2 separate regions of the Homo sapiens genome follow, and region 1 is linked to region 2. Evidence: fine-mapped QTL for protein levels in blood plasma. Region 2 holds a variant in brackets. A gene starts in the other region. All regions are shown on their forward strands.

Evidence for each region. A credible set is the group of variants that fine-mapping cannot tell apart. PIP is the chance, under the fine-mapping model, that this variant and not a neighbour inherited with it causes the effect. The UK Biobank Pharma Proteomics Project read protein levels with antibody pairs (Olink). The fine-mapping took linkage between variants from a reference panel, not from the people measured, so its PIPs are less certain.
Region 1: FCRL3 starts here. The variant in region 2 is the best candidate, but not a certain one, in a credible set for the plasma level of the FCRL3 protein (UK Biobank, PIP 0.72).

The regions. Positions count from the first base shown.
Region 1 is chr1:157,698,927-157,703,323 of GRCh38, forward strand. FCRL3 (Fc receptor like 3) reads right to left here and starts at 1,843. Exons shown (of 15, transcript NM_052939.4): 1 at 1,736-1,843; 2 at 1,533-1,659; 3 at 766-786. The coding sequence starts at 1,563.
Region 2 is chr2:111,047,913-111,052,309 of GRCh38, forward strand. ACOXL (acyl-CoA oxidase like) reads left to right here. Exons shown (of 18, transcript NM_001142807.4): 16 at 1,306-1,376. LOC124907866 (a long non-coding RNA gene) reads right to left here and starts at 2,265. Exons shown (of 2, transcript XR_007087182.1): 1 at 2,149-2,265. RefSeq lists an enhancer at 1,940-2,234 and a silencer at 1,940-2,234. The variant G/A (reference allele first, on the strand shown) is at 2,188.

The sequences.
Region 1 (4,397 bases), not on the chromosome of region 2:
GAATGTGGCTGATCCTGAAATTCTCTTGTCCTATACATTTCTGTCCAGATAAAGGTGAACCTGGGATGTATATACCTCAGAAGTAGTTTCTAGACTCCAGAAAATTACTTCCTACTTGTTAACACTTAAAATGAATAAGATTTTCTCACTTGTATTACTTTTATATCTCTCTTAGCTTTGAAAGTCTATGGGGAAGGCAACTTTACTCTCCATTTAAGTTGGACACAGTAAACAATGGAGGGATATAAAGAATTTAAATGGAGGAGGATGGGTTGCCTGAGAAGTCAGACTTGTGTATGGAATTGCAACTGACTGACAGGCATGGAAGTGAGGTGTGGCAGTGGCATGAGCTCTTTTTGGAGATTTATAAGGATTCTGCTGTAGCATCTTCCTCCGTGGATGGGATCTATTTCTATGTCCTTTGATAGCAGCACTAGCTTGGACATTCAGAGGGAGATGTACTAGAGAATATGGAGATCACATATGAGATTCCTTCATCATCAGCCTCTTGCCTCTGTCCTTTGCTCTGCAAGTGTTTCCTTCCTGTAGTCTGAGGAATACCGGTAATGTAGGGAGAAAAAAAAAAAAAAACCTAGAGACTGAAAAAGTCGGAGGAGGCTCTGTTCACCCAATATAGTAGCAGATGTGACCCCAGAGCATTAGCATTGCTGATGGGATGCGTGCCTGCAAGGGTTAGGGCAGGCTGTGTGGGCTGAGGGGACCAATATCCAGAGACCAGAGGGGCAGAGAGAAGGAGAAACTTACCTGATTGTTCTCTTCCAGGAGCTGTGAGGGAGCAGAAAATGACAATCAGACACTCTCCGAAACATTTTCTAACAACCTAACCACAACCACTTCTTTTGTTTTTCCTTATCATTTCTTTGCTCCCTTTTTATATCATCCAGAGCCCCTAAACAACAAAGAAAATGTCATATAATGTATTTTACAAACGTGATGGCTTATGTCCAAGGCCTGACCTCATCTCTGCTATTATTTACTTGGCCACGGCACACTTTATTCTCTCCTTCTCTTCTCTGAGTGCAGAGGCAGACAAGGACTTACAGAAATGGTTTATCCTCCTTTCGTTCCTTGGGCTCCTATTGTTCCCCTCACTTTTTCAATCTCTGATTAAATTTTGGCTTAAAACTTCTAGAAAACAGTGATGTTTCTCAGTAAACCTTCCTTCACGTGCCTAGGTTTTTAGAAGTAACTGCTCATCTGAAAAATTATTTAGTCTGAGGCTTAAGAGGGAGGGTGGGATATAGAGTTGTGGTTTGGCAGAAGGAAAAATCCAAGTTTCCTATGAGGTGAGAAAAGCAGTGGGTGAGAAACCAAGGTCAGGATATCTGGCTTGCTCTGATGGTTGCATTTGGAGCCTCTTGGTTGTCCAGGGAACCCAGCTCTGCTCACTTCCCATCCCTTGCTATCTGTCTCTGAACCCCAAGTAGAAGCAGAGATAGAAGCTCCTTGAGTTTTTCCCTGGTCACCTTTAGGAACTGAGGCCGTGGCCCCATTATAGCCCATCTACTCACTCAGGATCAGCAGCAGCAGCCACAGAAGCATGGGCACCGGCCGGGCAGAGGGTTGGGAAAGTCTGTCTCACCAAAAGCCCGACTTATCTCCAAGAAGGAGGGCAGGAAGCTGCTACTCAGATGAGACCTGCAAGAATCAGAAAAGGGAAGAAGAGCTTAGTGTCATATTTTGCTTTGGGCTCTGAAAATGTGAATGTGGCTACCTTCCTAAATGCTGTTTGTATCTCAATCCCGGTAGTGATACATTTTTAGAAGTTGGGGCTCATCTTCCATCAGCTGCAGTCTCTCAGGAGTAATGTCTCCAAGACTGTGCCTGGGTTCTCTAGAAATATCAAGTTGTGTATTTGCTAGTATTCAAATAATTCTTTCTGTATTTTTCATATGGGAAACCCCTTCACTACCTTGTCTTCACACAGCCTTTGGTTCTGCATGCAGCTCCTAATGTAGGCAAGCTTAATGAGCGTGGTGTGAATCACACAGTCAAGGTGTCAAGCATATGCCTTTTTGACTTTCACATAAGTTGTTATGAGGCTTCTGAACAGGAAAATAATACAAATGTACAGATCAAGGACTTCCCGTAATCTCACCCAGATCTGCAAATTAGGAGATAAATCAGCAAGCGTACCACCGTTTTTAAAGCCAAAGCCCTTCTCAGAAAGGGCTTTGCAATCAAAGAGGTTCCACCCCATTATTTTGTTTCAGGTCCTTTGTGTTTTTTTCACAGTGTTTATAACAATTTGCAATTATTTTCTCTATTTCCTTGTTTGCTTTCGTGTCTTCTTTCCCACTAACATTTAAGGGCCCCTTTTCTTACCCCTTATATCCCCCGCACCTCTAACTGTTCTTTCTTGAAAGCATTCCTTTAGTAAGTATTATTTGAGGGACTATTGAATAAAAACTCTGAACCAGTGTTTCTCAACCATTTTTTCGTTATTGCTCCCCTAAGGATCTTTTTTAGACAATTTTGTTTTTAGCCACCCCCTTTTTCCATGAAAATTTAATACCACAAATATACTATGTATGTGTTTATGTGCTGCATGTATAGCTGTGTTTGATACATTAAAAAATTAGTTTTTTTCATCTTCCCAAGAGTCAATTCTTGCCCCTTTGAAGGTGATATAACTTCTGTTAGGAAGGCGTGTTTTAGACTTAGAGGTAAGCCATTCTTGGGAATCTACCTACCAGGATAAAGTTGTCATCATTCAGATACCTTTACATTAGAAATGGGAGATGATCTCAGATCAAATGTCCCATCCTCAGGGTGCCCAACCTTGGCAGGTAATGGAAAGAGGGTCCTCTTTTTTAACAAATATTATTATGTTCTTTCTCCCATGGAAGTCACCAAATTTTATCATTCTCTATATGTTTATGTGATTGTATAATGCCTATTTTTCTCATTAGATAGTATTACAAGGTTTGGGAACAAGCCTGGTTTGTTCTTCATTTTGTTTCAATGCCTAACAGAGCACTTGTCACATACCAATTTGTCAATAAGGACTTGCCAAATGAACGACCAACAAACAGTAAGGAACAGGATGACAATAGAAGAGGATTGGATGTGTTTCAATGTGTGCTTAGTCATTCCTGGTTAGAGATTTCTCCAATATTCTGGAGAAGATATATTGGTTATATCAATTTATTTAAATTAAATTAAATTATTTATTTAAACTATACCCAGTTAATCCACACTACAGGGTCTTTGTAAACTTGTAATTGTAGAGTATGGTGCCACATCTACTGAGAGGTATTCTCTGACCTCCCACATTTGGGCTGGGTGTTCCTCTCATGTGCATCAATAACACTTGGATTTCCTTCACTCCAGAACCGATCACAGTGAACTGAAACATCCTGTCCCTTTGATGGTATTCCTCAATGATCTAAGTATCTTTAGGGAAGGGAGCGGTTAGGGCTTATTTTTTATTTCTCTGAGGACAGCATGCTCATCAACAAAAGGAAGGTTCAGTGGGATATGGATAGCTTCGAGATTCAGTGTGTCATTTCAGACTAATTCAAAATATGAATAAACCTCAAATATACTTCATGCTCAAAGGTGACGATGTTGTTGATGACTCTGAAGTATTGTTTCCTGTGGTTGGAAAGATATGCTCAGAAAAGAGTATTTTGAATTTAATTGCTCATCTGTAGCCAAAAATGTTACATTTTTCTACGTCTCTCTCTGAAGACAGGAACTATGTCATATTCACATTATTCTAGCACCTAGCACAGTGCCTAACACTCAGTAGAGGATTGCCAGATAAAATGCAAGGGTCTCATTTAAATTTGTATTTCAAATAAAAAACAAATAATTTTTACTATAATTATGTTCCATACAATACTTGGGATATGTATGAGTTCGTTTTCATGCTGCTGATAAAGACGTAACAAGACTGGGCAATTTACAAAATAAAGAGGTTTATTGGACTTACAGTTCCACATGGCTGGGGAGGCCTCACAATCATGGCAGAAGGCAAGGAGGAGCAAGTCACATCTTACATGAATGGCAGCAGGCAAAGAGAGAATGAGAGCCAAGCGAAATGGGTTTCCCCTTATCAAACCATCAGATCTCGTGAGATTTACTCACTACCAGAAGAACAGTATGGAGAAAACTGTCCCCAGGATTCAATTATTTCTCACTGGGTCCCTCCCACAACACATGGGAGTTATGGGAGTACAGTTCAAGATGAGATTTGGGTGGAGACATGGAGCCATATCAGGATATAATTGCATTTAAAAAGTAGTCACTGTTTATCTGAAATACAAATGTAACTAGGAGTCCCATATTTTTATTTGCTAAATACGCCAAATCTAATTGAACAGAATAACTTTTCATTTGCCTGAATATATTAATGAATGGTTGTGTTGGGG
Region 2 (4,397 bases):
AGCAGTCAAGATGGCATGGAGTAATTTAGTCAGAGATGAAAGCAGTCTAAGGAATTCTATTTTAGAGTAACATTGAAAACTACAAACAACCTACCCAGACAATATTTTCTTGATGAAAATTCATCATTGCTGATATAGTTCTCTTTAAAATATCTGTATTTGTAGACATGACATCCAGGCATGCTTGAGGTCAAATCATTGGAATCAGACTGTCCCTCAGCCTTGAGGCTGAGTTTAGCTCTGCCCACCTTTGTGGGATCTGCGGGAGTTGGGATGGGACCAGAGGGCAATCAATGTCTTTATTGGCTGGATGGGTGGGCTTGGGATGTTCAGTTGGAGGACTGAGTTTTGCTCTACTCAAAGACAAGAGGCAGAACTCTTCCCAGCAGAGAGCAATGAAAGGTCATAGAGGGTAAAGAGTGAACGCAGCTTTGAGTATAGCAATCAAAGGCTAAACTAGTTGGGTTAACTTAGTAAAAGCCTTAATGCGTGTCAAATAAGTGGTTTTAAATCTGAGGGTGGCAGAGAATTGTGGGAGCATTTTCAAGCATGAAACAATGTAGTCAACACAGCCTACAGGAGGGCAGTCTGTGACTTACACCAAAATAAAAATTGGTCACCACATAAGTGAGCCTTTGATGAGAACCTGGCCATAAATATGAGAAGGGGAATGTAATTTTGTAAATTTTCTAGATTAATATTCCTAGAGCTTTCATGGCCAATTTCAATGGATTACTAAAACTTTTTTTTTTTCTCGTAAATCTTCTTGGGTTTCTCTTCCCTATTCTCCTTGAGAAGGTTGGTTGGAGAAAGACGACTTTATATATTTGGGGGAGTTTGTGGGGTTTGAGTCAACACTTGGGGCCATACACCAAGAGAAGAGTTAAAGCCATGGAAATCATGATGGAAGATTGAGATTTTTTAAATTAGCACTGTCAAATTTACAAAGGCAGGTGGAGTCTTCTCAATGAAGGTCCCAGGAAATGGAGATAGAGTGTCATCTCTGGGGACAAGATGACCCAAAAGGAAGCTGAACCCAGGACCTCCTGGCAGTTTAGGGAGGAGCTTTGCTGATGGGAATGGCCTTGTACTCTACTGTAATGACTCTGTCTGATGGGGTGGAGAAGTCACTGTACGGGGGCCCCTGACCCATGCAGGGGACAGTTGGGGAGCTCTGCCATGTCACCAAGGAAGGACGGACAGCATGCTGTTTACGTCTGTTATAACCACAGTGTCCTCCTTCACATCAGAAGGGCTCTGAGGCGGAAGTGAAGTCATTCACAATTTCCATTTCTTCCCTTCCAGTTACCTTAGAGCAGTTCTCCCTAGCAGTGAAGAGCTGTCCTGACCAAGAGGACCAGACTTTGTTAATGAAGGTAGGTTATCAGATAAAGAACTTATTTCCTAAAGGCTCAGAGCGTTTTTATTGCCCTGAGGAGAGTTTCATTTTTACAAGCGGGAGTAAATTTATCATGTCTGAATCGTGTGCTCCAGGGGGATAAGCTTGTCATAGGCGAATTGGAGGGTTGCTGGTTAACGAGCACCACTGCTGCCTGCGGAGTGCGGGAAAGTGACAGGAGAGTGGGTGTCCACATGAGTGGGGAATCTGTTTAACTCTCCAGAGGGCTCAGTTGGTTCTATTTAAACTTATCTGATGGAGTCTTGATGCTTTTTTAGCAGATTTATGAGGCTTGGCCAAATTCCACATCTCCCACTATATTTTTAATTAAGACAAAGGATTCCATACGTTCCCAGTCTGCTGCTTCCTACTTTTGGCACCTTAAGGAATGCTACACAAATTAGACTGTTCATATTCACCACCAGAATGAGCATCTTATGTCATAGATTCCTTGCCCTTGAGTGGAAGACAAGCTTCTTCCCCCCAACCCCCCGCCCCAAGGAACAGTTGTTTTATTTCCTTCCAAGTGACAGGAGCAGAGGCATTTCCAAATGGTATAACCTGCACTTAGGCTGCCTACCTAGGTGAGCCAAAAGTGTGGAAAACCCTGGCAAGCTGCCCACCTGGATTTAATTAAAACTTTGTCTTTGAAGCAGAGAGCAGTAAACAGCAGCAGATCACAAAGGTGCACACACATACTTTCCCACCACTAAGACTCATGCTTTCACACAGAAACCTTGCAGACTGACCTTGAGGTACAAATATTTCCATGATGTCACTTCAGTGCT[G/A]TACCACCAGGAAACCGCGTGCACCAGGAATTGCATTTCTTTATCTAAAAACCAGCTTCTTTACCAGGTGTCCTCTGACTTTAGAAATGGGTGGAAAAAAAATAGGGTGTCACTCTGAGGGATTTTCAACTCATTTGCCTAAGATGTGATATTTTTGGTCTTTAAAAAAAAAAAAGCTTTCAGTGATGTTAGTTTTATAATAAAGAAGCGCTGCTCATACCAAGTGTTGGGTTTGTCTGGGAACCCTGATTTTTCAGAGTCCTGGGCGTCTGATACACTGACTTAGAATGATATAGATTCAGGCACATGGGCGTTTCTTGTTTGCCACGCTTAATTCTCTGTTTCCTGCTTTAAGTTCTATTCTGCAAGGACCTTTCCTTCCAGGTGCAGGCTGGCTTTCCATGACCTTGAAGCAGCTCTTGGGCCCTGGATGCTCACCTCTTTTCTCTGCTCACCGGCCTTTGGTCTTTCTTCCCTCTATCCTGTGTTTTCTCCTACCATTTGCTTCTTGCTTCTCTCTTGTTCTTCTCCTACTGTCCATCTCTCCCCATTTGCAGGAGGTGAAGCTCCTGGGCTCCCCTGGAGGTTACATGGGCATCTCAGAGGCATTTTGGGGTACAGAGGGCAGCGACAGAGCCCAGCCCCAGAGACCACACCTCCAGGCCTGCTTCTAGTGGTCCTCATGGCCTCCCCGACTTGGGATGCCGCAGCCCCCTCTGAGTTTCTTCACATCTAGAGTGAGAGGTGAAAAGAGATGTAACCAAAGGCCCCTCCTCCTCTCACCATTTCACCTTCTTGCTGACTTTCATGGTGCTCTGGCTGGCTTCTCTAGCACATTCGGTTAGAAACTAACAGATTGGGGTTGGGAGAGGAAGGCTAAGATGGCCTGAGGTTTCCTGGAATTTGCGTGACCTCCAGTGGCGTTCAGTATTTTGTGTCTTACCTGTTGGTTTCTGCAGACTGTGTGGCCTCAGCAACAGAGGATGATTTATGTGGGCGTTTTCTCAATATTTGCAAATATTTGAACAGGCATCATCAAAGAAAGAAGTTTCACTGAACAAAAACGTGTGCCGAGTTCATATATACTGAAACTATTTTATGATTTTTTTTAGGAGATTGAGGTTTTCTAATGTCACATATCAGAAGGCACCATGTGGGTGTGACAATGGTATGCTGGGTTTTTGTAGATGTTATGTGAGAAAACCTATTCAGGGTGACAGTAGATTATTTTGACTACAGTCAGCCTGCAGGTGATTGTATGTTTGCTCTAGTGAGCTATCCACTTTGCAGACTGTCTGAAATAAATTCCCACATTTAACTTAACCTCATGAAAACTTGTTGGAGGCAAAAAACGTAGATCTGGGCCAAATATGATATATATTTTTTTGAGACAGAGTCTTCTTCTGTCACCCAGGCTGGAGTGCAGTGGCGTGATCTTAGCTCACTGCAACTTCCACCTCCTGGGTTCAAGGAATTCTCCTGTCTCAGCCTCCCCACTAGTTGGGAGTACAGGTGTCTGCCACCATGCCTGGCTAATTTTTTGTATTTTTAGTAGAGATGGGGTTTCACCATATTGGTCAGGCTGGTCTTGAACTCCTGACCTCAGGTGATCCACCCGCCTCGGCCTCCCAAAGTGCTGGGATTACAGACATACGCCACTGCGCCCAGCTGATATTTTTTAAAATTATATTTTGCATGCATTCCTGCATTGTCAAACATTCCAATGTTGCATTCTACATTGTCAAGGGTAATTGAGATCTGAGCACAAATATTTAAAGGGGTACCATTAAAAATGCAGCTTGTATGGCAGGCATGGTCCATGATTGTCCCAGGCAGCCTAATTTTGACTCAAGTCAAAAGCCCCTCCCTCAATCACATAGCTCCACCTTGCCTAACCTGAGAAGATGCTCTATAGACAGACTGCCAAGAAGATGCAAGAGATGAACTTGGTTCATCAGATGGCTGAACCAAGGTCAGATTCCCCTGCAAAGACAAAAACATTGAGATTTTGAAGATGGCATAAGCCAGAACATTCATCTGACAACCAGGAAAAGCAGGAGGGACAGGAAAACAAGTGACTAGCCACCATTGCATAGCTAGTCAGCCGGCAATAGAACTAGGACCAGAAAGCTGGGCTTCTTCCTGCGGGGCCCACTCAGATGAGCAAATTCATAGAAAATTCCACCACTCCACCCCTTCAGCACCATGAG